2 separate regions of the Homo sapiens genome follow, and region 2 is linked to region 1. Evidence: fine-mapped expression QTL. A gene starts in region 1. The other region holds a variant in brackets. All regions are shown on one strand. Distances are from middle to middle. Region 1 holds the start of KLHL42 (kelch like family member 42). Region 2 overlaps KLHL42 (kelch like family member 42).

Region 1 (15,825 bases):
CTTAAGACGTGCATTCTCTTTTCTGCTTTTCTTCTTTCTCTGAAAGTGAATAGTCACAGACACCTTTTGCTAAGTAAATATAAAGGCAAGTGGAAACCTTAGTCAAGAGGCTTTCTGAGGGAAACAACAAGTTAGTCACTTGACATCAGATAAAGGAAGTATCCATTTCATCATAAACAAGACATGATTTTGTGAGGGCACTTCTGTTTGATTTTTAAAGAACTTGTGATTGCAGATTGTTTTTTAAAAAATCATCTCGATTTCTTTGAACTTAAGTTCTGGCATTCAGGTTCACCAAAAATAATTTTTTTGCACTGGTTTGGGTTTTCATTCTTACTTAAAAAAAAAACCTTGGCCAGGCACAGTGGCTCACACCTGTAATCTCAACACTTTGGGAGGCTGAGGTGGGAGACTGCTTGAGCCTGGGAGGTAGAGGTTGCAGTCAGCTGAGATGACACTACTGCACTCCAGCCTGGGTGACAGAGCGAGACCCTGTCCCAGAAAAATCAAACCAAACAAACAAACAAACAAAAAACACTAGGAAAATGGTGAAATCTTTTTAAATTTCTAAATAGTAATAAAATCATTTCAATTGCAATGCCCAAACATTTGAAAAGGCAGTGAAAATGGACTGTTGCTTTTGTGAAAGTTGTGGGTTTCATATCCTGTGACATCCAAGGTGACAAATTAGCTCAAAGCATAAAACTGTTGCTTTTTTGTATCCAATTTTATATGAAGCATTAGTGATAATCAGCTTTTGGCACAAAGCACTCTACTGTTTCTTCTAAAAAAAGAGAAACTTTCTAATCTGTGATCCGTATTTCTTTTATACCTTTTTATACAATGACTCATTCACCTTCTTGACACAAAAATCATCAGCATTCTTTGAACGTTCATCTCTTCAACTGTTTCCTAATAATAGTCAATCTAGTTATTACATATCTTTTTATTTTTAGAAACATGATAATAATTGATAATGAAAAGGAAAGTAGTTAAGACTGAATAGCTTTAAATATGAAACACTTCATTTTCTTCTGAGCAAAAATTATATTATGCACTAACTCCTAACCTTGCCTAAGCCACATAGAATACACAAAATGATAAATATTTCATTCTATTGAACTTCTTACAGAAAGCAAATTTCAGTTGCTCACCTGCAAAGACTCAGACATTTCCATCTGTTTGAAGGGATAGGGAAGAGAGGTTTTATAATGGCAAAGGAAGGAAGGGAAAGGATGAGTAACAAAAAATTACTCTCGATATTTTATGAGATTCCATGGCTATTTCTCTTAGAAAATGCCCTCGAGACATAAACAGGAAGGTCTACTCTCTAATCTTATAATCTTCAAGTCTTTGAGTCATATTAAGTATAGGTTCTTTTGTGTGCTATATAATTCTTTGAAGTTCTCGTATTCCTTTCAGGGATAATGGAACAAGCCACAATTGTTTAACCCTTTTGCTGTCAGATTATATTTAAATAAAGATCAAAGTTTCATTTTAAAGGACCTAGAAGTCTTGGCCAGGCGGGGTGGCTAATGCCTATAATCCCAGCACTGTGGGAGGCTGAGGCAGGAGGACTGCTTGAGCCTAGGAGTTCGAGACCAGCCTGGGCAACACAGGGAGACAGGGTCTCTACTTACTAACTAACTAAAGCCCTGCAGGGGCTGGTGCTATTAAGAAACAAAAAACAAACAAACAAAAAAGGGATCTACAAGTCTCAATGTAAAAGCATGCTTTAAATTTTGTAAAACTTTTTCTGGAGATTGCATTGTCTGGAAATGGATAACTTCTTGGGGCCAAGTGTTTTAAAAAGAAATGGTAGAAACTGGAATGCAGAGGTAGAGGGAGGCATCCATAACAATCTCAAAACTTGTCCCTGTGTGCTGAAACTGCAGAAACCAGGAAGCAATGCAACTGAATCAAAACTTGTTATAAGGCCTTGTTATCAAATACCCAGAACCACTACACTGTTGCAATGTGGAATACATTATATTTCTTTCCAATAGGGTGCTCTTGCTCTGCAGAGGGGTTCACAAATGTGATTTGTACTTTAAAAGTCACGACAGCCTGATTCAGTAGCTGTTGAGTGGAGAGTGACATTCTTATTTTTACAAGAGTCCCAGGTGATTTCCTAAGATGTTTGGGAAACACTGATATAGATAGATGAGCGAAATAAATGGAACTTTTACCTAAACAACGATGCTCAACCTAGTTAACTAGAACCATTTAAAGACCATATACTACTTTTATCTCATTTAAATCACTCCATAAGCTTTGATGAAAGGAAGATACTTCAGTTTTGCTTGTTAAAAAACAGGAATAGGCCAGGCATGGTGGCTCACGCCTGTAATCCCAGCACTTTGGGAGGCTGAGATGGGCGGATCACTAGAGGTCAGGAGTTTGAGACAAATGTGGCCAATATGGTGAAACCTCATCTCTACTAAAAATACAAAAATTAGCTGGGTGTGGTGGCACACGGCTGTAATCCCAGCTACTCGGGAGGTTGAGGCAAGAAAATCACTTGAACCTGGGCAGCAGAGGTTGCAGTGAGACGAGATTGCACCACTGCACCCCAGCCTGGGAGACACAGCAAGGCTCTGTCTCAAAAAAACCAAAAAACAAAACAAAAAAAAAACCCCAGAAATAAAGTTGTTTTAGGAATATTGAGGAACTGAAAAAACAAAGAGAAATAATTTTTAAATAGTAGTGAAGTAATAGCATAGCTTTAGTAAATTCAAGACATTTGGAAAGCAGTCAATATTTCACCTTTAATTAATTATTTATTTATTTTTTGAGAGTTTCCATTTCATTTGCTGATAAAATTAATAAAAATTATTTTTTAAAAAATGGTACCTGAAAAACTTAAATGTTTTTTCTTTAAAAATGTTTTTGCTTCTATTAAATCAACATATGTTCACTTTAATAATTCAAATCATATAGAAAAATACAAAAAGAGAAACTATTCAAGCACTTACCATCTTAATAAACATCTTTCTGGATATTGTTATTTAAAAAAACATATGAACGTCAAAATACAAAATTACAACAAATTTAGTTTAAAGACCTTAATTGGCTTTTATTTGTGATTCCAGAATAGGGCAACACCTCATTCTATAAAATCCAATAAACTGAGCAGAGGAGGTGGCTTTGTTGATGGAAAAGAGCTGAGGAAAGCAGAAATAGAAAATAAAAAGCAGGGGCTGGGCACGGTGGCTCACGCCTGTAATCCCAGCACTTTGGGAGGCTGAGGCGGGCAGATCACGAGGTCAGGAGATCGAGACCATGCTGGCTAACATGGTGAAACCCCGTGTCTACTAAAAATACAAAAAAATTAGCTGGGTGTGGTGGCAGGTGCCTGTAGTCCCAGCTACTCGGGAGGCTGAGGCAGGAGAATGGAGTGAACCTGGGAGGCGGAGCTTGCAGTGAGCTGAGATCGCGCCACTGCACTCCAGCCTGGGCGACAGAGCGAGATTCCGTCTCAAAATAAATAAATAAATAAATAAATAAATAAATAAATAAATAAATAAGATTACTTTCCTTGTAAAGGTTAAAGCAGAGGGCACTGCCTTATCATACTGGTTAAAAGCGGCCTGTCTGGGGATTTGGTTATTATCTCTCTCCTGATTTTTTCAAAGATCAGATACAGATCTTGGTTCTGGCTTGGTGGCATCATGGAACATCACCATGAGTAACTCCATTTTGGTTTCATCTGTTGGGGCTAGTGCAGGAGCTCAGTTCAAACCAATGGTCTTGGCTGGTGCGGTGGCTCACACCTATAATCCCAACACTTTCTAAGGTCGAAGAGGGAGAATTGCTTTGAGCCCAGGAGTTTTGATATCAGCCTGGAAAACATAGGGAGAGCCTGTCTCTACAAAATTTTAAAAAATTAGCCGGTTGAGGTGGGGCCCATGAGGTTGAGGCTGCAGTGAACTGTGGTTGTGCCACTGCACTCCAACTTAGGCAACAGAGCAAGACCCTGTCTCAAATAAATACTAAACAAACCAATGGTCTATACATTTTATTTATTTTTAAATTTTTTTGTAGAGACAAGGTCTCACTATGTTGCCCAGGCTGGCCTCAAACTCCTGGCTTGTGCAATCCTCCCGCCCTGGCCTCCCAAAGTGCTGGGATTACAGGAATCGGTCACTGCACTGGCCTCCTATAAATTTTATTTTACAGTATATAGGTTTACATAAAGGGAATCATATATGCTGTTCCAAAATCTGTTTTTTTTTTTTAAACTTTATGTAAAAGTATATTTTTCAGCCAGGCGTGGTGGCTCACGCCTGTAATCCCAGCACTTTGGGAGGCTGAGGTGGGCGGATTACCTGAAGTTGGGAGTTGAAGACCAGCCTGGCCAACATGGTGAAAACCCGTTTCTACTAAAAATACAAAAATTAGCCAGGCGTGGTGGCAGACACCTGTAATCCCAGCTACTTGGGAGGCTGAGACAGGAGAATGGCTTGAACCCAGGAGGCTGAGGTTGTAGTGAGCTGAGATCACACCACTGCACTCCAGCCTGGGCAACAAGAGCGAGACTGTCTCAAAAAAAAAAAAAAAAAAAAGTATATTTTTCAGTGATCCTAAAGAAAGATCTACACAAAAACTTCTAATGGCTCCTTGGTATTTCATTCTACCATACCAAAATTTACTCTGCACTTCAGCTTCCTCAGCTGTAAAATATAAAAACAGTACTGTAATCCATGTAAAGCACTTACAACAGTGCCTGGCACATGCTAAACACTCAATACATATTAGCTACTATTATTATACATTATGTTGTTTTCCAATTTTTTGTTATTAAAAGCAATACTGTGATAAACATCTTGTACTAAGATTTTTTTTTCTACTTGCTATTTCAAAAGGGATATTTTCCATAAGTTCTTTAAAAAATGACCTACTTCAGCTGGGTGTGGTGGCTCATACCTGTAATCCCAGCACTCTGGGAGGCTGAGGAGGGAGCATCACTTGCGCCCAGGAGTTCAAGACCAGCCTGGGCAACATGGTGAAACCCCGTCCCCACAGAAAATGTAAGAATTAACCGGGCATAGTGGCGCAGGCCTGTATTCTCAGCTACTTGGGAGGCTGAGGTGGGAGGAGCACTTGAACCTGGGAGGCCTCTGGGAGGAGCACTTGAACCTGGGAGGCTTCATTGAGCCATAATAGTGCCACCACACTCCAGCCTGAATGGCAGAGTGAGACCCTGTCTAAAAAAATAAAAAATAAAAAATAAAAATTACCTAACTCTATTTGACCATTACGCTTCTGTAAAACTGTTTTACAGATAGTACCACAAAACTGGTTTTTATTATTCAATGATCAGTCAATAACAGATCTATAAAATTATACCTCCAGTTATATAAAGCAATATTTTCAGGAAGACTAGGAATAATTTTAGGTCTTTTTAAAATAAAGGAGTTTATATTGCTCTGACTTTGCATTTCTAGCTTAACAGAAAACTTACTGCATAATTTATTAAAATGATTTGATCATTTAAGATGCTCCCAATCCTAAATAATGTTATTATCATATTGGGAGCCAAAAAAACTCACAAGATCAATGCCCAGTATTGTGAGACTAATACCCCAGACTCCCTGTCCAACCTCATCTTACCCTGATAATGTTACTGTGCTTGAATTGCCTTTCTAATGCACATCATTCTTTGAGCATGATTTTTTTGGTCTGTTTTAAAAAGGCAAGAAAATACCAGTCTGAGGCATATCTATGACGGCTGGGAAACAAAAGCATCCATTGGTGAAAGATTCAAGAGACAGAGGAGAGACTGAGAGCCTGTTCTTTGTGGCTGACCCACTGAATCTGGCATTGTTGCCGGTTGAGGCATAGAAAAATCGTAGGTCCAAGTCTCTTTGATACAGGGGACGCATCCCAGCAAAATTCCCCAGCCTGATGCTTAATACTGGATGTTACACTCTACCATCCCAAAGAAGCTGCTAAATGCTTGATCACTCACTCCACCTCCTGCTCCAAAGCTTATCGTGTCTCACTGCACCCTCATAGAGAATGGAAGTGTGAAGGGTTGATGTGAAAATGGAGTTTTATCAGTAACGATTTAAAGGCCAGGTGAAACAAGGTGAAGAGATGAATGTTTTTTATAGAATCCAAGAAAACAACTGAGTAAGTCATAGATCCATTTTTATTTCCTTCATTTTTTTCCAGGGAGGCCAGAATCTACTAGAACATTTTCTATGTCTTTTATTTTTTAGTTCCTTATTCCTAGCATTATTATAAAGAAAATAGGCCAGGCACAGTAGTGCTTTGAGAGACCAAGGCAGCAGGATCACTTGGGGTGGCAGGATCCCTTGGGGCCAGGAGTTTGAGGTCTGTCTTGGGCAAGGTAGCAAGACCCTATCTCTATGGAAAAAAAAAATGCATTTTTTTTTGCTGGGCATGGAGGCTCATGCCTGTAATCCCAGCACTTTGGGAGGCCGAGGTGGGTGGATCACGTGAGGTCGGGAGTTCCAGACCAGCCTGACCAACATGGTGAAACCCCGTCTCTACTAAAAATACAAAATTAGCCGGGTGTGGTGGCTCATGCCTGGAATCCCAGCTACTCCGGAGGCTGAGGCAGGAGAATCACTTGAACCCGGGAGGTGGAGGTTGCAGAAAGCTGAGATCGCAGCATTGCACTCCAGCCTGGGCAACAAGAGGGAAACTCTGTCTCAAAAAAAAAAAAAAATGCATTTTTTTTTCTAAAAAATAAAAAGATAAACCTCCTTTCCCAAGTAATAATAATAAACAAAGTAAAAGATGACAACAACACCTCTCTGTGAAGCAGATAAATTTCGTAGTAAGAACCACAAATGTAACCAAACTATGTTGAAAGGATCTCATGTTTCACCTTTGACTTTCTTTTAGTTCTCTGGTTTTTAACCCTTTCTCCTTCCTAAGGTAAAATGTTAGCATGGTAGGATGTATCTTCTTTAAATAGGGGAAATGTACTTATGAAGAAGATATTATTTAACAATCTGTCATTCAAGAAGAAAGCTGAAGCTTGTAATAATAAAAAAAAAAACCAAACACATATTCTCTCCAAGTTAAGGACTGTTTATCATAGGTGGTTCTCAAATCTTGGTTTGGGGTAAGTTTTCAAGGTTTTCTGTTTTTGTTTTGTAAGATAAGAGTGAACACACCCTCTGCTTCCTCCCAATCCTTCTCCCTTCTCCTACCCAAAGATAATCCAAACAATATATTTCTCCCCCCACCCCCTTCCTGGGATGAATTCATTAGCAAGACAAAAAGTCCTTCCTATTATTATTTGGGGTGGGCCTTCTAATTGCAATGTTCAGTGAGAGAACATAGGAAACAAGTGGTCTCTCTTTTCCGAGACGGCGTCTCGCTCTGTCGCCCAGGCTGGAGTGCAGTGGCGCGATCTCGGCTCACTGCAACCTCCGCCTCCCGGGTTCCAGCAATTCTCCTGCCTCAGCCTCCCGAGTAGCTGGGATCACAGGCGCGTGCCACCACGCCCGGCTAATTTTTGTATTTTTAGTAGAGACGGGGTTTCACCATGTTGGCCATGGTGCTCTCGAACTCCTGACCTCGTGATCTGCCCACCTGGGCTTCCCAAAGTCATGGGATTACAGGCGTGAGCCACCGCGCTCAGCCAAACCGCACGTGTGGTCTCTCTTAATAGTCCTCAGATGATGGGGGCAGGGTAGGTGGAGAAAGGGGGTGACAAGAAAAGCTACTTCTTGCAGACATTTATGAGCCAATTTTGTCAGATCTTTTGCGCCAGGATAACATTCCGTAATGGACTGGACTGAAGTAGAAAAGCAATGGCTCATAGAAAACATGGTTTAAAACCAGAAGCCACGTGATGTAACTTTATTTAGTCGGGCTGCGCTTTCATCTTTCTTTTAATAACTTAGGGAGAATAAGGGGCCCCAGTGGCAAATGCAAGCTCCCCTGCCTCCCAACCCGATTCCTCTGAGAACCTGCTGCCATCTGCCTGGACCTCCTGTAAGATGGCTCCTACGCGACCACGCTACCAGAGAATCAGCTCTACGTGCCACCAACATTGCCACCAACTGTCCATAGATCGCCTGCGTGCCTCAGCCCACTGACACTCGATGCCGGACTGGGCCAGAAGGACGACCCCATATTTGATGCCTTTTTGTCTCCCTGGACCAGAGACTCCATCCTTCCCTTTCCTCCCACGCTCATTTCTTTTTCTTTAGCCCGTGTAAAGCAGCGTGGGAGAGAAAACGAATTTCTTCTCCCTGGGGTACCCCGGAGCATCACTGCAGCCCCCAACAAGCGGCGGAGCCGGCGCGCCCCGGGCGGGCGGAGAGGCTGCGGGGACGCGCGCCCTCCGCCTCCCGCAGCTGCGCGTCCGCAGCCGAGGCGCCCGGGCCCGCAGCTTCCCGGGCCTCCCCGAGAGCCGGATCCAGCCGGCAGGTCAGGCCGGCGGCTGGGGTCCCGCGGGCGGAAGTGAGAAGGGCGGCGGGGGAGGAGGCTGCTGGCTGGGAGCTGGAATTCCCTTCCCGCCTGGCGCCGCCCGGGAGAGCCCGCGCGAGGACGCCCGCCGCGCTCCGCCGGCCCTTTTTTGGCGCTGAGGGAAAGGAGAAGGGCAGGGCCGCCGCCTCGCGGGAGCGGGCCCCGGGAGGAGGGGCCGCCGGAGAGGCCGGGCGAGCGCGGGCGGCCCTCACCTCGCCGCTCCTCCCGGGCCGCCATCCCTCGGCGCCCCGCCCGGAACCGGCGCGCGCGTAGGGGCTGGGAGGCCGGCGCGCAGATCTGGCGGTGAGCGCTGCCGCCCCGGGGCCCCCAGCCATGTCGGCCGAGGAGATGGTGCAGATCCGCCTGGAGGACCGCTGCTACCCGGTGAGCAAGAGGAAGCTCATCGAGCAGAGCGACTACTTCCGCGCCCTCTACCGCTCCGGCATGCGCGAGGCCCTGAGCCAGGAGGCCGGCGGCCCGGAGGTGCAGCAGCTGCGCGGCCTCAGCGCGCCGGGCCTGCGGCTGGTGCTGGACTTCATCAACGCCGGCGGGGCCCGCGAAGGCTGGCTCCTGGGCCCGCGCGGGGAAAAGGGCGGCGGGGTGGACGAGGACGAGGAGATGGATGAGGTGAGCCTGCTGTCCGAGCTGGTGGAGGCGGCCTCCTTCCTGCAGGTCACGTCCCTGCTGCAGCTGCTGCTGTCCCAGGTGCGGCTCAATAACTGCCTGGAGATGTACCGCCTGGCGCAGGTGTACGGGCTGCCCGACCTGCAGGAGGCCTGCCTGCGCTTCATGGTCGTCCACTTCCACGAGGTGCTGTGCAAGCCCCAGTTCCACCTCCTGGGGTCTCCTCCCCAAGCTCCAGGGGATGTCAGCCTGAAGCAGAGGCTGAGGGAGGCCCGGATGACTGGGACTCCTGTCCTCGTGGCCCTCGGGGACTTCCTGGGGGGACCCCTGGCCCCTCACCCCTACCAGGGGGAGCCCCCGTCCATGCTCAGGTACGAGGAGATGACTGAGCGTTGGTTCCCGCTGGCCAACAACCTTCCTCCCGACCTGGTCAATGTCAGGGGCTATGGGTCTGCCATCCTGGACAACTACCTCTTCATAGTGGGCGGGTACAGGATCACTAGCCAGGAGATCTCCGCTGCGCATTCCTACAACCCCAGCACCAACGAGTGGCTCCAGGTGGCCTCCATGAACCAGAAGAGGTAAGCACCCCGGCAGAGTGCTGCTGCCTTCTCATTCATTCACTTGTTCATTAGTTCATTACCCCAGTGTTTACTGAGCCAGTAAATAGGGGAGGGTGTGCTGTGGTGGAAATGACATCTTCAGGAATGTTGTTGGCCTTGGCGCTGGCAAAATTCCCAATGAACTAAGAAATTGCGAAGAGGACGTCCCCAGTGAGGTCAAGAAGTGGAGTGGTTTTTTGGCAGGTATTGTGCCTTTAGGTGAAACTGCTTTCTTTGCCTCTGTTCTTGTGAAAAAAGATGTTGTGGTTTCCTACAAGAATACTTTAAAAGAAAATTGCCCCTTAATTTTTAAAAAATTTGTCTTAGTTTTTAGGATTTGATCCTGATGATAATGATACACTGGACAGTAACCTGTAACACTGACTTTGGGGGATTTTTTTCTGATGTCAGTGACTGTGACAACAGAGTCTTCCACACTGTGATACCCATCATGATCAAGAGATAATCACTGGAAATGTATTAACGTTTGCAATAGGGGTTGCTTTTCTTATTTTTTATCCTCTCTTTTGCTTCCTTCCCTGGACAGCCATCGTCATGACCCACAGCTTGAGCCTGGAAGTGTTCAACTACAGAATTGGAATATTTTCATTTACGCAACCTTCTCCCCCTCCCATCCTGCAAATCTCTCCTGCCTCCAACAAGGGTGACTTGAAGAAAGGAAGAGGAGGAGCTTGAGGAGTGGGATGAGAGGGGAGAAGGGAAAGGAACCAGGGAAGGAATATCAAAACAAGAGCAAAGAGCATATACAGGAAGAGATGGTAGGAAATAAAGATGGTAGCGCCTAGGAGGCCTCAGCGTCATTCAGAAGCAGGGAAAAGAATCAATGTAACTCAAGAAAGGATGAAAATACCCTTTCTTCCCATCCACGTGTTTCCATCTCAATCCTCACAGGGTCCTGGTCCTGAAGTGTGGAGCAAGGAGTTGGGGAGCTCACAGCTGGGCAAAGAAAGTCTTAACAGTAACAGAGAATCCTTTATATATCTGTTTATTTGACTCGAGGGTCCTCCTCGGCCAGGGATTATTTGGGGGAAATAACTGGCTTTATTTCTCCTATAATATGAAATTCATTTTGAAAAGTATGCTTTTTCCCCTGATAATACATAGTTACAGAAAACTGGAAAATGGAAAAGAATGAAGAAGCAAAAAGATGATTATTCCTACCCGCTCTTCCTAGAGGCAGTAACCAGGTTGGCATATTTCCTGCCAGCCCATTTTTAATGCATTATTTACACCATTGAGATGATACCATATTTAAAATTTGGTATCAGAAGTGTTATTTTAAAACAAATTCTATGCACTGTAATTGAAACAACAAAGGAACATTGTGTGGCCATGGGTGGTGGTCTGATTAGGGGTGGGCGGCCCTGAGTTCTCTCACTCCTCTTGCATTCCTCTAGCTACACATCATTTGGTGCTCACCAGGCCATCCTTAGTGCCACAGTTCCTCACACTTCTTTCTTCCCTTCATACATCCTTGGTAGTCTTTGTCTTTTTTTCTAGGAAGGCCCTTTTCATCCCCTTAAAAAAAAAAAAAGCATTCAAGTAATGCATGAATGCATGATTCTTAGAAAAACTGCAAATTACACACAAAACTGTGGAGTAAAAAGAGTAAATGTCTGCCCTCAGGGTACAGAAAAAAAGTGTCAGTGTATCAACAGACTTTTGTTACCTTTAGATATTATAAATGTATAAACATTTATACTGTAAATTATATGTATACTTGTATAAATACAGTTAACCCTTAAACAATGTGGGGGCCAGGGACACCAAACCCTGCACAGTCAAAAATCCCCATATAACTTTTGACTCTCCCAAAAACTTAACTACTGAATAGCCTACTGTTTACCAGATGCCTTACCAATAACATAATCAATTAATACATTTTGTATATGTAGTATATACTTTATTCTAACAATAAAGTATGCTATAGAAAAGAAAATGTTATTAATAAACTAAGGAAGAGAAAATTAAGCGGAAGTGGATCATCCTTATCATCTTGACGCTGAGTAGGCTGAGGAGGAAAAGGAGGTAGAGGAAGGGTTGGTTTTGCAGTCTCGGGGTGGCAGAGGCAGAAGAAAATCTGAATGTAAGTGGACCCTCACAGTTCAAACCCGTGTTATTAAAGGATCAGCTGTATAAGTATATTGATAGTGGTTAACAATAGGGGAAAAGTGTTTATGTATATTAATGTGCACGGGGGTGTATCACCTTACACATTTTAAAAATTCTGAAATTGTCTAGGTTGTACTAATTATTATGGCACTTGATATTTCCATTTAACCATATCTGAGAGTTTTTTTTCTGTGTCAACAAATGTAGATCTACCTTATGCTTTTTTATTTTTTTATTTTTTTTGAGACGGAGTCTCGCTCTGTCGCCCAGGCTGGAGTGCAGTGGCGGGATCTCGGCTCACTGCAAGCTCCGCCTCCCGGGTTCACGCCATTCTCCTGCCTCAGCCTCCCGAGGAGCTGGGACTACAGGCGCCCGCTACCACACCCGGCTAATTTTTTTTTGTATTTTTAGTAGAGACGGGGTTTCACTGTGTTAGACAGGATGGTCTCGATCTCCTGACCTCGTGATCCGCCCGCCTCAGCCTCCCAAAGTGCTGGGATTACAGGCGTGAGCCACCGCGCCCGGCCTTACCTCACGCTTTTTAATGGCTGCGTGGCATTCCAGCCTATGGATGTACCATAATGTAATTAGCCCTTCCCTTATTTATGGACATTTAGGTCACTTCCATTTGCATTGGATGTTTCAATAAGCACTGCCATTGAACATCCTGGTAGATGCGTGCATGTATCTTAGTAGCCATATGTGAGTTAGTTTCATATGTCAAATTCGTGGAATCCCTGGATAGGTAGGGCAAAGTGTATGTGTTTTTTTTTTTTGTTTTTGTTTTTTTTTTTTGGGGACGGAGTCTCGTTCTGTTGCCCAGGCTGGAGTACAGTGACGCGATCTCGGCTCACTGCAAGCTCCGCCTCCCAGGTTACGCCATTCTCCTGCCTCAGTTTCCCGAGTAGCTGGGACTACAGGTGCCCGCCACCACGCCTGGCTAATTTTTTTTTTTTTTGTATTTTTAGTAGAGAAGGGGTTTCACCTTGTTAGCCAGCATGGTCTCGATCTCCTGACCTCGTGATCCGCCCACCTAGGCTTCCCAAAGTGCTGGGATTAAGTTGTGAGCCACCGCGCCCAGCTGTGTATGCATGTTTTAAATTTTGTTGAAGCTGGGTGCAATGGTTCACGCTTGTAGTCCCAGCTACTTGGGAGGCTTAGGCAGGAGGATCACTTGAGCCCAGGAACTGAAGGCTGCAGTGCACTCTCATCGGGCCCGTGAATAGCCATTGCACTCCAGCCTGAGCAACATAGTGAGACCTCATCTCTATAAACAGTTAAAAATAAATAAATAAATAGATTTTGGTTGCTCCCGCCAAATTGCCCATCAAAAAAATTGTTCTGATTTCCTCTTCCATCAAAAGTGTTTGTGCTTGCCAGTTCCCTATACTCTTGCCAAGATAGAATATTATCATCTTTTTTTCCCCAAACCTAATGGGCAAAAACACTAGTGTGATTTTTCCCAATTAGAAGAGAGATTATTCTTTTTATATGTTGGTTGGCCATTTGTATTTCTTTTGTAAATGGTCTTTGCCAGTTTCCTAAAAATTGGCTTATTTTCTTCACATTCATTTGAGAAGTTCTATGTGTGAATACAGATATTAATCTCTTGTCTGTTATGTAATGTCGTGCATGTTTTCCCATGCTGTTATTTTTTCTGCAGTGTTCAAAAATAAGATCCCAAAGTGACTGGGTAGGTGAAATTGTTGCATAGAGGGGTGGGTGGGAGTTATGATGAAGCTGAGAGCTATCGCCCCACCAAAAGAGGGCTCCACCTCTCAACCATGGCTGGTTACTTCTACGGGGAAGGGAGGAAATGTTGCCAGACATCCAAATATCCCTTTATTTTTTCTTTTTTAAAGAAATGGGGTCTTGCTTTGTCACCCAGGCTGGAGTACAGTGGTGTGATCATAACTTACTGCAGCCTTCAACTCTTGGGCTCAAGCAATCCTCCTGCTTCAGCCTCCCCAGTAGCTGGGACTACAGGCATGCAACACCATGCTTGGTTAATTTTTTAAAATTAAAATTTTTTCTTTTGTAGAAATGGGGGCTATGTTACCCAGGCTGGTCTTGAACTCCTGGCCTCAGGTAATCCTCCCACTGTGGCCTCCCAAAGTGCTAAGATTACATGCCACCATGCCTGACCCTCCATTATATCTTCTAATTGATTATTGATGCTGTATTGGAAATTGTACCCTTCTTTAGTTCCCTCTGCTTTGACTCAGGTATGACATATCTCCTAGGAGTTCCTTCCCGAACTCTGGCTTGGGCTGAGTGTTCCGTGTCTGCTCCTCTAGCATCTCATGCACATTCCCCGACTTGAATTGAAATTCTCTGTTGTTGTCTCTCTGCCTTCCGATCAGGAACTAGGACTTACTCAATGCTTATGTATAGCCCTACTCCTAACAAGATGTCCAATAATAATAGGTGCTTAAAATACGTGTTTTCTTTAAAAAAAACTATGGAATATATTTTTACATTATTGTAATAAAAGTTAATGTATAATTTTATATTTCGCTTTATTTGTAACACTATAGTGAACATTTTTACCTTGGTAACAGTCATTATATTTATTTAGAGTAGCTGAGAAATAATGAGAGACATCATTTAATTGAACACTTAACTCTGCAGTAGGTACTGTTCCCGCTGCTTTGCATGAATTATCTAACTTATTCTTCACAAGGGCTGTTAGGCAGGTTCCCATTCTAAAGAGACAGAAAGTGAGGCACAGAGAAGTAAATTGCTCAAGGATGTGTAATAAGTACAGCAACCAAAATGTAAATATCCATTGAGTAGTTATAACCACTTAAATTGTTTATAAGTTTTGGATTTTAGACTTGCAGGGACCATCTTCATGCACATTTCCCCCCTTCTTTAAAAAAAATTATTTCCTTCTAAAAAATAGAGCACAGATCTTTTGTGGTACAGTGCTACTTTTCAAAATTTCATCATGTGTGCCTCAGCTCCACGACAGCCTTTAAGCCCAGCATTCTTCTAGTCACTGTTGGATGTACAGAAACTGATGACGTAATTGCTGCCCTCAAGAAGTTTAAAATTGAGTTTAGGTGATGAGACAAGTAAAAATGAAACCTAGCACAGAGTTTTTCCTGGATGAGGCATCCAATACAGGTTATGCATGCACTGGAAGAAATTTGGAACCTTGAGAAAGAAAACCAGATTTTGGCCTCTGGCTATGCAGAATTTCACATCTACTTTGATTCACCTTTGTCGGAGACTGCTTTGGGATGTATCAGTATTTTACTTTGATAAAGGGGTCAAATGTAGAGCAGTTCACTTTTCCCAGGGACTGAATAGTGCAGTGATCCAGAATCTTAAATAGCAGGAACTCTGGGATTGAAAGAGTTTTTTTTTTTTTTTTTTTTTGAGACAGAGTCTCGCTCTGTCGCCCAGGCTGGAGTGCAGTGGCCCAATCTTGGCTCACTGCAAGCTCCGCGTCCCGTGTTAACGCTATTCTCCTGCCTCAGCCTCCCGAGTAGCTAGGACTACAGGTGCCCGCCACCATGCCTGGCTAATTTTTTTTTGTATTTTTAGTAGAGATGGGGTTTCACTGTGTTAGCCAGGATGGTCTCGATCTCCTGACCTCGTGATCTGCCTGCCTTGGCCTCCCAAAGTGCTGGGATTATAGACATGAGCCACCGCGCCCGGCCAATTGAGAGATTTTATAAAGCCTTCTGCACTCTGGAGAAGATAGTGGGTGCTATATGACCATCAGAGGGTAAAAAAGAAATGTTTTGCTCTGTAGGCCAAGTGTGCAACACTGCCTGATGGTCTGAACGTGGGTTTGATCTCACAAATTGTCAGGATGTAACTCTTCACACATAAAAGCTTGTGAGACCTCTAGGCACGGCGGCTCACACCTGTAATCCCAGCACTTTGGGAGGCTGAGGCAGGCGGATCACCTGAGGTCAGAGGTTCGAGACCAGCCTGGCCAACGTGGTGAAACCCTGTCTCTACTAATAATACAAAAATTAGCTGGGCATGGTGGTGGGCA
Region 2 (15,825 bases), 29 kb after region 1:
AGGGTAGTTTTAATTTAGCTCGGTTCTCTTGTTGGTGCCAGTATTACATTGAAGACTACCTATGATAGAGGCAATGTTGCTTTGAAAATCTCCCTTCAGGCGGAGGTTGCAGTGAGCCGAGATTGTGCCATTGCACTCCAGCCTGGGCGACAGTGCAAGACTCTGTCTCCAAAAAAAAAAAAAGAAAAAAGAAAATCCCCCTTCATCCCCCAGGACTGTCCTTTACTCTTTGATAGTATCCCTCTATTTTCTTCCCAATTCTCTAAATGCTTTATCATTTTTTCCTGAGATGCTTCTGAGGGATGCTGACCTCCCACTATGGGGAAAAGGGTTGCTTGGAGGACCTGGGGTGGCAGCCCCCCGACCAGAAGCACCCTATTTTATAGATAGCAGTCTGAATGGTAGAGAGTCCTGTGTGTGGGTTGTTAGAAGGTTGGTTCTTCCTGTTATTCTCTCTGGCTTTCCTTTCAACCCACTTATTTTCAGAGGCCTCTCCCCTTAGCATCCTTTAAAAGGTTTTCTGATGAATGTGTGAAAGAGTTGATTATTTCAACAGTATTGGTTAAGTCACAACGACGAAGTGCTGAGAAGGTTATGGGTACCAGGAAGAAACAAACAGAAGTCTTAAGATTAGAATGAGAACCAAAGAGAATTTAACCCTGCCATTTTTTTTTTTTTAACACCAAGATCCTAAGTAATTCCAAATGCCTTAGATATCAATGAAAGCTACACACCATTGAGATGGGCAAAATTCTTTCTCTACAAAGGGAGTAATCAAGTAAATACCTGTTCTCTTTCAATGGACTGTTGCCTATTGAGCATTGTGGATGATGTGTTTTCAGATTTCCAGGTGAAGTTCTGACCCTACCTGTTTGGCCAAAGACGTAAATTGAGAGGAAAGGCCTTGGTCTTCCTGATCAACCAGCATTTAACGAACAGTGGCTTAATGCAGATCACTCAAGAGGCAGCATAGCAATGTAAAAGGAATATAAGTAGGTGTTGGATGCCTTTTTCCTAGACCAGGAATGGGGAATATATAACACCTGTGCCACCGCTCTTTTAAGGAGGCATTATGAATGAGTGCAGCATTCCTGTCCTCTGTGCCAGGATTTGGTCTTAGAATCCATGTCAGATTGGTGCTTCCAGACATCTATTCCCAGTCCATCAGAGTGAAATGAAGGCTATTTGCCATCCCTGCCTTAGACAGAGGAGTGAAAGAATTAAGTGGGTAGACACCAACCAAAATGACTTTGAAAGCAGTGAGCTGATTGAGCTCCAGTTCTGTGGTTACCAGAAATACTGAGTGTCTGTCATGTGCAAGACAATGCTAAGAACAGAATACAGACATAAATAAGTCACGGCCCATGACCTTGAAGAGCTTACGGCCTTATAAAGAGGTTCACTGTAATTGTCTTCACCAGGGCGTCCTTCTCAAAGATGCCCACTTTTGTCTGGCACATTGGGGCTCGGTGGTCTGGTGGTCCCTTCGGTCTTGGCCCTGTCCGTCCTTTGTTTTTGTGATTTACTAACAATCATCACGAACCAGTTTTGTTTTTCTTTTAAATTTGAACATCACATCTTGTGTTTTAGTTTTTTGCTCTATGATTTTTTTCTCACTGCTTTTCAGTCTTCTCTGTACTTCATTTTTGTGAAAAAGTGAAAATCACATATAATCTTTATTTAAAAATGCTCACCAAGCACTGCAGACTTTGGAGTTAGGGATTCAGCAGCTTGTTCCAGTGAAAAGGAGGAGTGAAGCTGGGGAAGTTAGTATCTAAGAGGGGCAAGCTGATTGCATGTGCATTTATACCTATGCCTTTAAAACATTCCCATAAAAAGTATTAATAAAGAAATTTCCATTCCACACTAGTACTGATGAAAAGGTGGTTGATTTTGCCTTGTGATAATTATCAAAGGATAGTTTTTCATCCTTAGATTTTATTCACATGAGAGATTTTTTTTATTTTCTCTGTTGACTTAGGAACACATCATAAATTCACACCAACTGACACGTTGCTGACGTCTGTACTTGACATAACCATTTTTATTCATACAGGAAGCATTAAATATAAAAGATGGTCAGTTTTGAAGAGCAAAGGGTGCTGAAATGACTTGTACGGTTGGCTGGTGCTTTCTCAAATGGATTGCCATAGTTCATTACTAGTAAAGAAAAGGAAAATGTGATTTACGTTGTCATTTTTCCTATTAAAAAAAACCCTTAAGAATGGGGCACTTGAGCTGTCCCTGCAATGTTTTCATATCTAGTAGTCATTTTAGGGAAAGTGATAATCTGTAGAATGAATAGTTATGTTTTGATATGACTGATACTTTCTTTGTTAAAAGGTTGTATTAAGTCTTCAATTTCAAGTCTAGCTTAAAAGTGTAAACATTATGTGATTCATTTGAATACAAGAATGCCTATGAAATACCCACTATAACAGCATTCCTTTTGTGTTTAGAACTATAGAAGAAAATGTCTTCAAATAAAGTAGTTTTCAGTCACTTTTTGTTATCTAAGTTCTATGTATCAGTTACGTATGCAGGGCTGTGCCAGGACTGGGAGGAAATGGGTGAAGTGACTTGGGAGCCTGAGGTGGGAGGATTGCTTGGGGCCAGGAATTTGAGACCAGCCTGGGCAACAGTGAAATCCTGTCTCTACAAAAAATAGAAATAAAAGAAATTAGCCGATACAGTGGTGCATGCCTCTAGTCCCAGCTACTTGGGAGGCTGAGGCAGGAGGATTGCTTGGGCCCAGGAGTTTGGGGCTGCAGTGAGATCTGATTGCACCACTGCACTCCAGCCTGGGCAGACAGTGCAAGACCCCAACTCAAGAAAAATGAAATAAATGGACAACCATTTTCTACACACTCAGGACACACTGATGGAGGAGAAGGAGGATGGCTGACCTAGCAGAGCGACACCCAAATCTAACTGAGCACTTTTTTTTTTCCCAGGAATTATTCTAAGCATTTTTTATTTAAATTATTTAATCCTCACATGAATCCCATGTGGTAAATACAAATATCCTCCGCTTTACAGTTGAGGAAACTGAGGCACTGTAGGTTACAAATTGCCACTTGAGAAAGAGGAGAAGGGAAAACTACATACAGTGGTCACTGGTTTAAAGGGTATCCTTTCTCTTGCTAGTGGAGGAGTGGGTTTCCGAGTGAGCCAGTCTGGGAGCCTCTGGTCCTGCTTTGCAGCAGCGCGTTCCATGGCTGACCTGCCTGGGGGTGAAGTGGCAGCCTCTTCCTGTGGGCATGGTTACAGGAGGTGTGTGGAGGGGCACCTGAACACTTCTGTTGAGGCCAGGGATCCTAGGCTCCTGTTTGTAGGCCATCAACATTTCCTTGGCAATAAAACTTTAAAAACCCATTTGAGGCTGGGCACGGTGGCTCACACCTATAATCCCAGCACTTTGGGAGGCTGAGGTGGAAGGATTGCTTGAGCCCAGGAGTTCAAGGACAGCCTGGGCAATACAATGAGACCCTGTCTCTATTAAAAAAATAAATAAATAAAAACTCAGATGCTGGTAAATCTGATCTCCGGCAACTCCATAGGATAAAGGCCCAGATTTAGAGGAGCCCAGTTTCTTTAACTTAGAGCCCATCTTTATGATGTCTGTCTCTTAGCCACAGGCTTCCTGCCCATGCCTCCACCTTCAGTTTGATGGCGTCAATCTCTCTCTTAGCTTTGGGATAATCTGAAACCATAGGGGTCTGCCGTTCCCAGACTACATCCCAGGGACTGCAGCATTAGTAGAAATGATTACCTCTGTGTGGCAGGAGGTGTTTGGGGAATAAAATACCCACCCTATTTCCTCTTCTTCTTCTTCCTCTTTTTCTCCTTCTCCTCCTTTTCCTCCTCCTCCTTCTCTATTTTTGGAGACAGGGTCTTGCTCTGTCACCCAGGCTGGAGTGCAGTGGCACGATCTCAGCTCACTGCATCCTCGGCCACCTGGGCTCAAGTGATCTTCCCACCTCAGCCTCCTGAGTAGCTGGGACCACAGGCATGTGCCACCACACCCAGCTAATTAAAAATTTTTTTAAAAAAAATTTTTATAGAGATGCGGTCCCGCTATGTTGCTTAGGTTGGTCTCAGAAAACGATTCTCCCACCTCGGCCTCCCAAAGTGCTGCGATTTACAGATGTGAACCACTGCGCCAGGGCCCCCACTCTATTAGTTTGCCTCCTCCGGGAGCCCGATCTTACTATATTTCTGGCTGTTCATGCCCCTTTAACTAAGGCAGAGAACCTGGCTCCTATAGTTCTGCCAGGCACATGTTTGATCCTCTGCAGTCTGCTGCCTGTAGGCAAAAGGGTGAAAGGCATGGACTCTAGAGCAAGACTTTGCTTCCTAATTCTGCTACTGTCTTTCTTTTTTCTTTCTTTTTTTTTCCCGAGACGGAGTCTTGCTCTGTTGCCCAGGCTGGGGTGCAGTGGTGCGATCTCAGTTCACTGCAACCTCCGCCTCCTGGGTTCAAGTGATTCTCCTGCCTCAGCCTTCCAAGTAGCTAGGATTACAGGCGTGTGCCACCACGCCCATCTAATTTTTGTATTTTTAGTAGAGATGGGGTTTCACCATGTTGGCCAGGCTGATCTCGAACTGGCTAGTCTGAAACTCCTGACCTCGTGATCCACCCGCCTTGGCCTCCCAAAGTGCTGGGATTACAGGCGTGAGCCACTGCGCCTGGCAATTCTGCTACTTTCTAGCTGTAGCTTTGGTTAGGCTACTTTGTCTCCCCAGGCCTCAGTTTCTTTATCTGTAAAGTAGGGATAACAATAGTATCCACCCTGTGAAACTGTTGCAAAAAATTGTATGAGAAAATTCATGTGATGTGTTCAGAATGGCATCTGGCACATAACACACAATGAATGTGAGCTGTTGTTATTATTACCAAAGCTGTTTCCTTTATACCTTCAAATGGGCCAGCTTGGCTGGAAGCTTATGCCTTTCCTAAAATATCTTAGCAAAGCCATTAAGACGTAGCTAACAAATTCCAGATCCTGGTACAAGTCTTTCACTTCTCCTAAAGGAGCCAACTTGAGTGGTCTGAGGCCCAAGAGACAGCAGCATAATTAGTTGTTTGCTTTCCACATAAGGTCAGGGATGAGAAGATTCTATCTACCCCATCCCTTCCCTTGCTTTAGCTGGCTCCATATTTCAGCTTTAGATATTTGCAACATCCCATCCTAAGTACCAAACGCTTTATTAAGACTTGTTTGAACCAGCCCAGGTAATGTGTCCATTTCTGAGGTAACCACTGTGGCCAGGGGCATGGAGGAGAATCTCCAGTTCAACCACGTGGAATGAAGTCATCTCAGATAATAGGGGTCTGCTTACTAGAAGAAAGGGGTGTTGACTCTTGACTTGCAAAAGGAACAGCTAGATAACCTGTTGGTCAAGCAAAGCCAAGTTTGTTATGCTTACTGTGGTCAGGGAGGACACCACCTTGAAAAAGAATTAGTAGTGCCTCAGAAGGGGAATGTCAGGTTTTGGGGCCTGGGCTGGGTGATTTTGAAGTAGGTCTCAACACTGGGCAGAGTTTCTGATACAAGAACTTTGGGCATAGGACTTTGTGGGCACAATGCAGTGAGAGTCCCAAAGCTAATCTTGGGAGCTTGTTTGGAGGTTCCAGCAGGGGAGCGCAGCTACTCATACACCCTTGACCCAAGACTGGTCCTCCTCTATTGGGGATGGTTGTCCTCTTCGACTGAGCGTGGAGTTTCGGGAGGGACGCACATGGAGCAGTGAGGGAGGAAGGGGTCACCCATCTAGCCAGCCAGATCAGTCGAATCAACCCTGGCGATCAGTGGGGTGAGAGTTGTCACAGGCAGATCACCCTCACATCCCCTAAGCTAGCCTTGATGGGGAAGCTGTTAGTCTTGGTAAGTGAGCTAGCTGGTTGGTTTACAGTGTTATGGAAGATAAGCCTTCTGAAAATACTTGTTCCTGGATACAGCTTCAGCTATCTCTCTCTCAGGGCACACATATTTGTCTCATAGAACAGTTCTTATGTGCTTGTCTTATTCCTCTTCTAGACTGTAGTTTCCTTGATGATAGAGTGTTTCATTAATCTTTTTATCACTCTATGTCAGGACATACACCAGAGCCATGTAACACAGCAGATTCTGGAAGTATTTGTTAAATTGGAAAGGTTTTGAAGCCTCCTTGGGTTTTCTGAAAATATATAGGTTTCTGGTTTATGTAGCCCTAAAATTTCCTTATAGGAAAAAAGTGTTTTCTTGAGGAACAACGGTTATTAGGAAAACAGTGTACTTTTCTCTTCTACCAACGTACATAATGCGTCACGCAGATGGGAGAAGTTTCGAATTCTGGCTGTGGCTGGAAAGGAAGTTTGCCCACAGACAGTAGTGAGGCAAACGCCTAGGAGTTCAGGGGGCCCCGCAGGCAAATGGGAATGGAGCCCCGT[C/T]GCTTCATTATTTTCTCATCACTAGAATCAATATTAGGGCTTGAGTGATATTATTGTCACTCGTAGAACTGTTTTTTTTTTTTTCTAAAATCTGAATTGAATGGCACAAATACACAGTTATTCAGAATCTGAATGCCAGCGGAAAGAGATGTAGAAAAGGTAGGCGATGTTGTTGTCAGAAAGTGTGGTCTGACCCCCATGTGGGCCTGTGAAGGGTTTCCTGAGGAAGTCTAGGGGCAGAGATTCCGCTGCTCAGGCTACTTTCAGCCCTGGTGGATTTCGAGGTGCTGCTGGGTAGGAAGACAAGAAGTCAGAGGCAAGAGATCTAGAAAGAGGCACTGTAATAACAAGTGGTCTGTGGCTGGTGGTGACTTTTCTTATACAATCTGGTGTGTATGTATATGTTTGTCTGTTGGTTTTGTTTATTTATTTGAGACAGAGTCTTGCTTTGTCTCCCAGGCAGAAGTGCAGTAGCCTGATCTCAACTCACTGCAACCTCTGCCCCCTGCCTCCTTAAAAAAAAAAAAAAGATACGCTGATTTTTTTTTTTAAGGAGGTAGGGGGCACCGTTCAGCTCAAAACAGGTACTAAATCTTATCTCAAAAACCTTTTAAAATGTGCTGTTTGCTTCACATGCCATTCATTGAGAAGGGGCGCACTGCCTGAAATGAAGTTTGCTTTGAGTTGCCTACCTTCCCCACCTCCCCACATCCCCATGATGCGTGTCATTTTAATGCCTAATAATGTCATTTTAATAATTACAAGTCTGAAAGAACAGGATAGGTAAATCCTATACCGTTAGCCATAGTTTGATGAGATCGGGCATGTTCAGGGTGGTATGGCCGTAGACCGTTAGCCTTACCTTGATTTCAACTTTTAATGAAAAAACACGGTACCTTTCTTAGCTGAGTGCATGAGTTAGCAGGTACAGATGTTAAATAATGTCTATGAATTCAGTGCTGTCAGTGTTCAGTGTCCCATGGAGGCTAATTTCTGTCACCTTCCAGTACCTGGAAGGTACCCACCAGTCAGGATTTTTTAAAAAACCAACAGACACTGACTCTAGCTGATGAAAGAAAGAAAGAAAGAAAGAAAGAAAGAAAGAAAGAAAGAAAGAAAGAAAGAAAGAAGGAAAGAAAGAAGGAAAGAAAGAAAGAAAGAAAGAAAGAAAAAAGAAAGAAAGAAGGAAAGGAAGGAAGGAAGGAAAGAAGGAAGGAAGGAAAGAAGGAAGGAAGGAAAGAGGGAAGGAAGGGAAGGAAAGAAAAGTTACTAAAAAGATAGGATTTAACTCAATCTTTAATAGGACATGAAAGAAACAGAAACGATGGCAGCTCTGGCAGTTGGGAACTCAAGGACAATCTCTTCGGGGCTCCACCAATGGGACAGAAACTCCAACCCACTTTAGGTCTCGTGCCATGAGCCCTGAATGGAAATGGAAGGAGTGAGCACCCTGATTGTCCTGCTGGGGTCACATGTCCAGCCCTAGGCTGGGGATGGGATGGGGCCCCTTGGGAAGTCTCACCGAGACCGTACCCATTGAGGGAGGGGGATTCTTCAGAGCAAAGCCAAGTGTTCAGTGGTAGAGTCAAGACAGTGTTGTTCTAATCCCGGGAATCACCTGATTCCTTTGTCTTAGGTTTCTTTTTTCTTCTTTGAGACAGAGAAAGACTCTGTTGCCCATGTAGTGGCACCTTCTTGGCTCACTGAAGCCTCTGCCTCCCAGGTTCAAGCGATTTTCCTGCCTCAGCCTCCTGAGTAGCTGGGACTACAGGTGCATGCCACCACGCCCTGCTAATTTTTGTATCTTTAGTAGAGATGGCGTTTCACCTTGTTGGCCAGGCTGCCTGGCCTCAAGTGATTCCCCCCAACTCGGCCTCCCAAAATGTTGTTATTACAGGCGTGAGCCACCATGCCTGGTTTCTTGGCTTTTTTTTTTCTTTGGCTTTTGTTTCTGAGGACCAGAGTCATCCTAAGCCTTCTGGTCTGGGCAGGTCATGGGAAAAAGGAACTCTCCAGGGGCCTTCTCTGTGACTATTTTAAGAAAATAACACAAACAGACCCAAGGCCAGGGCTCACATTATGGCATATTAGACAGCGTACAAAGGCTGCTGATTTATTCCGTTCTCTTATCTGATAGCCATTAAGGGGAGAAAGAACAGATGGGGAACATTCATTAGCACTGTTTATTATTATCTTCACGGACTATTTCACAGCCCAAACTGTGGCAACTCCATAATCCTTCTGAGGCATTGATTTGGAACACGTTTTATTTTAACCAAGGCAGCCTAATTGTGAGAGAACATTCTACATTTTTTCCCATCTAGTTATTGCCCACAGCAATGCCATCTACATTACCCCGGATTCCAGCCATCTCATGACTTTTGTGGGCCCTCGGCATTTTTGCCTTCATGGGTCCCTTCCTTGGTAAAACAAGATTAAAAATCATATTTTACGACTCTGTATAATGACCAGTATAATCCAGGCTGGACTCATTATTACCCATTCATTATTGTTATACTCATGTTTTTCTTCTTTTTTATATTTTTAGAGACAGGGTCTCGCTCTGTTGCCCAGGCTGGAGTGTAATGACATGATCATGGCTCACTGCAGCCTGGACCTCCTCAACTCAAGCTATCCTCCCGCCTCAGCCTCCCAAATAGCTGGGACTTCAGGCCTGTGCCAACACACCTGGCTAACTTTTGATTTTTTGTAGAGATGGTGGTGCTCTCACTGTGTCGCCCAGGCTGTTCTCAAACTCCTAGACTCAAGCAATCCTCCCACCTTGGCCTCCCAAAATGGTGCTGGGATTACAGGTATGAGCCCCTACACCCAGCTGTTTCTTCTGGTTTTAAAATAAATTACAATGAAAACATTTTTATGGACCTCCAAAAGTATTACAGTGCTTCACCTGTGTGCCTTGAGGATATGGCCCTGCACTCAGTCCATCCTAGACATGCACGCCCTTGTCCTATGCTTAGCATTGTTCTGGAATGATCCAGAATGCTATCCCCAGATATCCCTTTCTGAGAGTTCTGGAGTCAAACGGCCTGGATGAAAATACCAGTTTTATTCTCACTAGCTAGTGACCTGCATTTAACCCTACAGACCTCAGTTTCTTCATTTGTGGTATGCTGGTAATAATGCCAGCTTCCTTATTGGTTTCTTGTGAGGATTACCAGAGAAAATGTCTGTAAACACTTCCCACCGGATCTCACATGCGCTAGATGTTCCATATGTGATAGCTGCATATATTTCTTGTGATCACTACTCCTAGGTCATCAAGGTCATAACCTCACAGAAGGTGCCCCTGAAAGAAATCCAGTTATTTAGTGACTTGCTCCCCTTCCTCATTATCTGGCATGTCTGCAGAAGGGGCTTTGGTGAGGGAGTGCAGGCGGGTCACAAGTAGTCATTGCTATTATTAAAAAAAAAACAAACCAGCAACTCAGCCGGACGTGGTGGCACACACCTGTAATCCCAGCATTTTGGGAGGCCGAGGTAGATGGATCACCTGAGGTTAGGAGTTTGAGACCAGCCCGGCCAACGTGGTGAAACTCTGTCTCTACTAAAAATACAAAAACTAGCCAGGCGTGGTGGTGGGCTCCTATAATCCCAGCTACTCAGAAGGCTGAGGCAGGAGAGTCGCTTGAACCTGGGAGGCAGAGGTTGCAGTGAGCTGAGATCGCACCACTGCACTCCAGCCTGGGCGACAGGAGCAAAACTCCATCTCAAACAAACAAACAAACAACAACAACAAAACAAACTCATACACAGAGAAGTACGGGAGGACTTCCAGATCGCATTTTCTTTGGAAGAGATGCTTGGAAGGAAGAGATCTGAAGCAGTTAAATGGAAGGTTGTGTATTTCCTAGGATTGTTGGTGCCATTGTTGGATTCTGGATTTGGGTGTGGCCACCAAGCTGTCCTGTCACAGTGTAGCCAGCACTGCTGGTGTGAATGCCTGTGATGGAGAGGGAATGCTGTATTCTGGCTCTCTGTGCCTCCGGGCTGGTGGGAAAACGGCCAGACCCTCCACTGCAGCAGATTCATGCAGGGTGATTCGGAGCCACTAAAATGTAAAGAAAGACTGTTTGTTTTCCCAGCTCAGTTTTCAGAGAGGTGAGTAGGTGTTTTCTAGCAGTGCTGATGTTTATTTGTTCTGAAGTCTTTTCTGCTCTGTTGTGGGTCTCAAGCTTCACCGATCTTCAGAGGCAGCTTTGTAAAATGAAGTGGGGTTTTAATGTCTCATACTCCTGGATTTGTTGCATCGCTTCAAAATATTTTCCATCATGGTGCCTGCTCAAAGGTCTCTGTAAAGCATGGTGGTTATTGTCTTTCTGGCACAATTGCCCTTCTATTTCCTTCTGAAGTTTGTAAAGTTATTCGGGCTCTACTGTATAAGGAGCAGGGTCAATCTTACTAGCAGAAGGCTGAAATGAAACGGCAGCTGCTGTGAGTGCTGTGTAGAGTAAAACCTGGCACCACATACCCACTGTCCTGCCTAGATCCAAATGCATTCAGCACCCAGAAAACCCCCAGTGAAGAAAATTTCAATGCTGAAAGAGAAGACTGGAGAACATTACCATAGAATCAGGTTTGTCTGCATGTGCCAGATACCCTAAAATAACAGTATGTTATATAAGATAGAAGTTAATTTTTCTCTGAGGACAAAGCAGCTTGGAGGATAAGCAGTGCAGAGCCAGGACAGCCAGTGGTGGCTGCAGCTGGCTTATTCCAACTTGAGAGAATGGGTTATTTGCACCTCCTCTCAGTCCTATGTTCAATGATGTCACACTGGTAACTTGAAATTGGTGTGGCTGGGTGCAGTGGCTCATGCTTGTAATCCCAGCACTTTGGGAGGCCAAAGCAGGAGGATCGTTTGAGCCCAGGAGTTTGAGACCAGCCTGGGAAATATAGTGAGACTTCATCTCTAAAAAAAAAAAACAAAAAAAACAAAAAAAAAAAAAAAGAAAGAAGGAATAAAAAAAGGAAAAAAGAAATTGGCCATTGTGGAGGATTTTACGTCACTGACATTGGCACATGCTGCAAATCAGGGCTTCGCCCTCCAGAGAGCTGGTTGTTTACCACTTACCAGCCCACCACTGGGTCTAGCTCTCTAATGGGGTTTAGGAACCCCAAGCTCTTTCTATTCTACTGCCCCACCATCCTAATATGTGACTGTCATTCTTACTGTCATTTCACAGTTTAGAGTTGATGCTAGAGTTCCAGCCATTAAATGACACATCCCAGATGGCAAGAAGGAATCGAAATATAAGGAGACAAATATTGAACACCAGCGGTATTTTCAGATCTCTTGGAAGCTGGTATACAGCATTTCTGTGGCAAATACTTAGCTACACGGCTTTGCTTAGCTATAAGGGAGGCTGGGAAATGCCATCTTTATTAGGGGATCCACATGTCAAGCTAAAAGCTAGGGGTCTGTGGTAGACAGAGCTCTACAATATCCCCGGTGATCTTTACTTTGTATAATCTCCTTCTCTTGAGTAGGAGGCAGAACTTGTGAATATGACAAAATGTCACTCCTGTGATTATGTTATATATCAGATCAGTTGATCTTAAGATACGGAGATTATCTAGGTAGGCTTGACCTTCAAAAAAAAGCCCCTTAAATCTAGATCTAGAGTCAGAGATGGAGGAAGTCAGAGATTAGGAGCATGAGAATGATTGGACGTGCCATTGCTGGCTTGAAGGCGGAGGGGCCATGTGGCAAGGAGTGTGGGTACCTCCAGGAGCTGAGAATGACCCCACCGACAGCCAGCAAGGAAACGAGAGTCTCAGTTTAACAACCACAGGGAACCAAATCTTGACAATGACAAAAACGCTAAATGTAAAAGTGGATTTTTCTCTGAAGTCTGCAGACAAGAACTCAGGATGGCCAACATCTTGATTTTAGCCTTGAGATGCTCCAAGCAGAGAACTCAGTCATGCCATGCCAGACTTCTGGCCTACAGAACTGTGCATTAACTAATAGGTATTGTATTAAAGTGCTAAGTTTGTGATAAATTGTTACACTGCGGATGAAAACAGATACAGGATCTATTACTAAGGAAAAAAGGAAAAACGGAAATTAGAGTATACACCTTGCAGTCTTTGACTCATCAATGCAGTAAAACCCTCAAACGTTAAATTGGAAGGAAACAGAGTTTGGTGAGCCTGACCTCCATGCAGGCATCTGTGGCCATGCTCAAGTTCTTGGAACTTTTTTTTTTTTTTGAGACGGAGTCTTGCTCTGTCACCCAGTCTGAAGTGCAGTGGCGCAATCTCGGCTCACTGCAACCTCTGCTCTCGGATTCAAGCAATTCTCCTGCCTCAGCCTCCCGAGTAGCTGGGATTATAGGTGCGTGCCACCACGCCTGGCTAATTTTTGTATTTTTAGTAAAGATGGGGTCTCACCATATTGGCCAGGCTGGTCTCGAACTCCTAACCTCAAGTGATCAACCTGCCTCAGCCTCCCAAAGTGCTGGGATTACAGGCATGAGCCACTGTGCCTGGCCCCTGGGCTACATTCTTATCTAGAGGCCTGACTGAGGAAGAACCTACTTCTAAGGTCAGGCAGGTTGTCGGCAGAATTTATTTCCTTATGGTCATAGGACTGAAAATCCCAGCTTCCTGTTGCCTTAGCTGTGAGAGGCCATCCTCGGCCCCTTGCCACATGGGGCTCCCAACATAGTCAGCTATGGAGAGAGTCTCTAGCATGAATCTTAGCCAGACAGAATCTTATATAATGCAACGTAATCAGAAGTGATGCCCCATCACTTTTGTCATTTCTATTGGCTAGAAGAAAATCACAGGTCCCACTCACATTCAATGGAAATAAATTATACAAGGGTATAAATACCATCATTGGGAGTCACCTAGAGTCTGTCTGCCACACAGACTGTAATTTATGTATATATATAAAATTATTTTTAATTGACACATAATAATTATATTATTACATATTTATGGGATACAGAGTGATATTTCAATGCATGTATACAATGTGTAATGATCAAATCAGGGTAATCAGCATATTCATCCCCTTAAACATTTCTCATTTCTTTGTGTTGGAGACATTCAAAATCCTTTCTTCTAGTTATTTGAAAACATACAACAAGTTATTGTTAACTATAGTCATCCTTCAGTGCATAAAATACCAGAACTTATTCCTCCCATCCAGCTGTCATTTTCTATCCTTTAACCAACCTCTCTTTATTCTCCTTTCCCTCTTACCCTTTCCAGCCTCCGGTAACCACAATTCTACTCTCTATTTTTATGGGATCAACTTTTTTAGCTTCCATATAGGAATGAGAATGGGTGGTATCTTTCTGTGCCTGACTTGTTTCACTTGACACGATGTCCTCCAGGCTCATCCGCATAGAGAAGGAAGACAGGATCTCCTTTTTCATGACTAAATAGGATTCCATTGTGTATATATACTGTGTTTATTTTATCCAGTTGTCTGCTGCTGGACACTCACAAACCTCAATTATTTTTCTCATGTTCATGATTAATCTCAGCCAACTATGAGACTTCATTTCCTGTTTCCCCAATCCCCCTTGTGAGGTGTGGTCATGTGACCTAGGTGTGGCAATGATAACTAAGCAGAAGTATCCTGGGAGGTTTCTAGGAAATCTTTTGGGCTCTCCTGATCAAAGGGAAGAAACACAGTTCGTACCTTTCTTTCTTCTTTTTAAAGCTTTGAATGTGTAAGTCATAACTGAAACTACAATAGCACATGATTATGAGAAGTCAAAAGAATCACAGAGATATCAGTGTTAGGACTGGAGTTCTGCTGAATGAACACTTGTAATCCCTACAGCTGGATTTCCTGGCGTATGAGAATAATTAATTTTTCTGTGCTTAAGCCATTATAACAAGGTTTGTATCATTTGCAGTCAAAAGCATTCCTAATGAATAAAATTGGCTGTCATTTTTCTGTCCCCAGGCTTGGGGAATTATATTTCTGACAAGAGGAGACAATTTTGAGGTGATCTGCTGAGCCTGGGATCTCTATTCTCTGAGTGATCATTTTTTGCATGTGATCCTGCCCTGGCTGTAGCTGATTGAAGCAGGATGCATTCTTTACCAAAGCTGGGCCAATCAGATTCTCTTTTGCATTTAAACTGAGAGACACGAGAACAGGCTCTTGGGGGCTCAGTCACGTTAATTCAGAGCTTTGAAGTAAAAGCTTGTAAACTTGTGTAACTGAGGTCCTGGAGCTAAGTTCCAGCTCTTCCTGGGACCTGGCTGTTCAGTTTTTCACCAGATTGCATCAGAGGCATCTGTATCTTCATAATCAGTTTTTCCCTTGTTTAATCAAGGTAGATTCTGTAATAAGGAGTATCAACTAGGAAACATGACATTTACAGAGCCCTTTATGATCTGACCTTTGTCTTCCTTCAGCAACAAATTCTGTACTCATCTTCAATTACAGCACTATTTTCTCAGCAAAGTCTTCCTTGATCCCAACAGGACAAGAGAGCTGGAGTTCCCTCCCTACACCTGCACATCACCCACTACTGTCTGGCTTAGTAGGCAGAGGTAGACACTGTGTCTTTTTCATTTTTGTCTTTCCAGAACCTAGCACAAAGTCTGGCACCTCGTAGGCACTCAGTAAATGCTTTTTGAATGAATAAAGGCAGAGATGGGAGTTTCTGACTGAAGTAATAGTGTAAACATAACCACAGAGAATGAAAGTACATGGGATTCTATGTTCCTGAAGGGCAGGGACCATGTCTTATTTAGCCTAGCACAATATTTGGCACATGGTAGGTATATTAGGCTGTTGTTGCATTGCTATAAAGAAATACCTGAGGCCACGTAATTTATAAAAAAAAGAGGTTGTTGTTTTTTTCTTCTTTTTGGAGACAGGGCTGTCGCCCAGGTTGGAGTGCAGTGGCACGATCTTGGCTCACTGCAACCTCTGCCCATGCTCAAGTGATCCTCCTACCTCAGCCTCCTGAGTAGCTGGGACCACAGGTGTGAGCCACCAAGCCTGGCTAATTATTTTGTAAATATTTTTTGTAGAGATGAGGTTTTGCCATGTTTCCCAGGCTGGTCTTGAACTCCTGAGCTCAAGCAATCTGCTTCCCTTGGCCTCCCAGATTGCTAGGGTTACAGGTGTGAGCCACCATACCTGGCTAAGAAAGGAGGTTTCATTGGCTCATGTTCCTGCAGGCTATACAGGAAGCATAGCGGCATCTGCTTCTGGGGAGGCCTCTGGGAGTTTCCAGTCATGGTGGAAGGTGAAGTGGGAGCTGGCACATCACATGGCAAAAGCAGGAACATAAAGGTGGGGGAGGTGCCGCACACTTTTAAACAACCAGATCTGGTGAGAACTTACCATTGCAAGGACAGCATCAGAGGAGCGGTGCTAAATTATCTATGAG

What was found. PIP is the estimated chance that this variant, and not a neighbour inherited with it, causes the effect.
Region 2: its variant is fine-mapped to the expression of KLHL42 in whole blood (INTERVAL, PIP 0.90).

Annotation. Positions count from the first base shown.
Region 1 is chr12:27,771,544-27,787,368 of GRCh38, forward strand. KLHL42 (kelch like family member 42) reads left to right here and starts at 8,690. Exons shown (of 3, transcript NM_020782.2): 1 at 8,690-9,659. The coding sequence starts at 8,788. MANSC4 (MANSC domain containing 4) reads right to left here and starts at 8,693. Exons shown (of 4, transcript NM_001146221.5): 1 at 8,667-8,693; 2 at 1-39. RefSeq lists silencers at 5,659-5,859, 8,292-8,511, 8,532-8,841 and an enhancer at 8,707-9,206.
Region 2 is chr12:27,800,539-27,816,363 of GRCh38, forward strand. KLHL42 (kelch like family member 42) reads left to right here. Exons shown (of 3, transcript NM_020782.2): 3 at 1-2,502. LOC105369709 (a long non-coding RNA gene) reads right to left here. Exons shown (of 3, transcript XR_931459.3): 3 at 10,777-10,863. It also overlaps the pseudogene RN7SKP15. Among named protein-coding and RNA genes, the nearest start is that of MANSC4, 28 kb to the left of the region's middle. RefSeq lists enhancers at 4,377-4,546, 6,917-7,086. The variant C/T (reference allele first, on the strand shown) is at 6,434.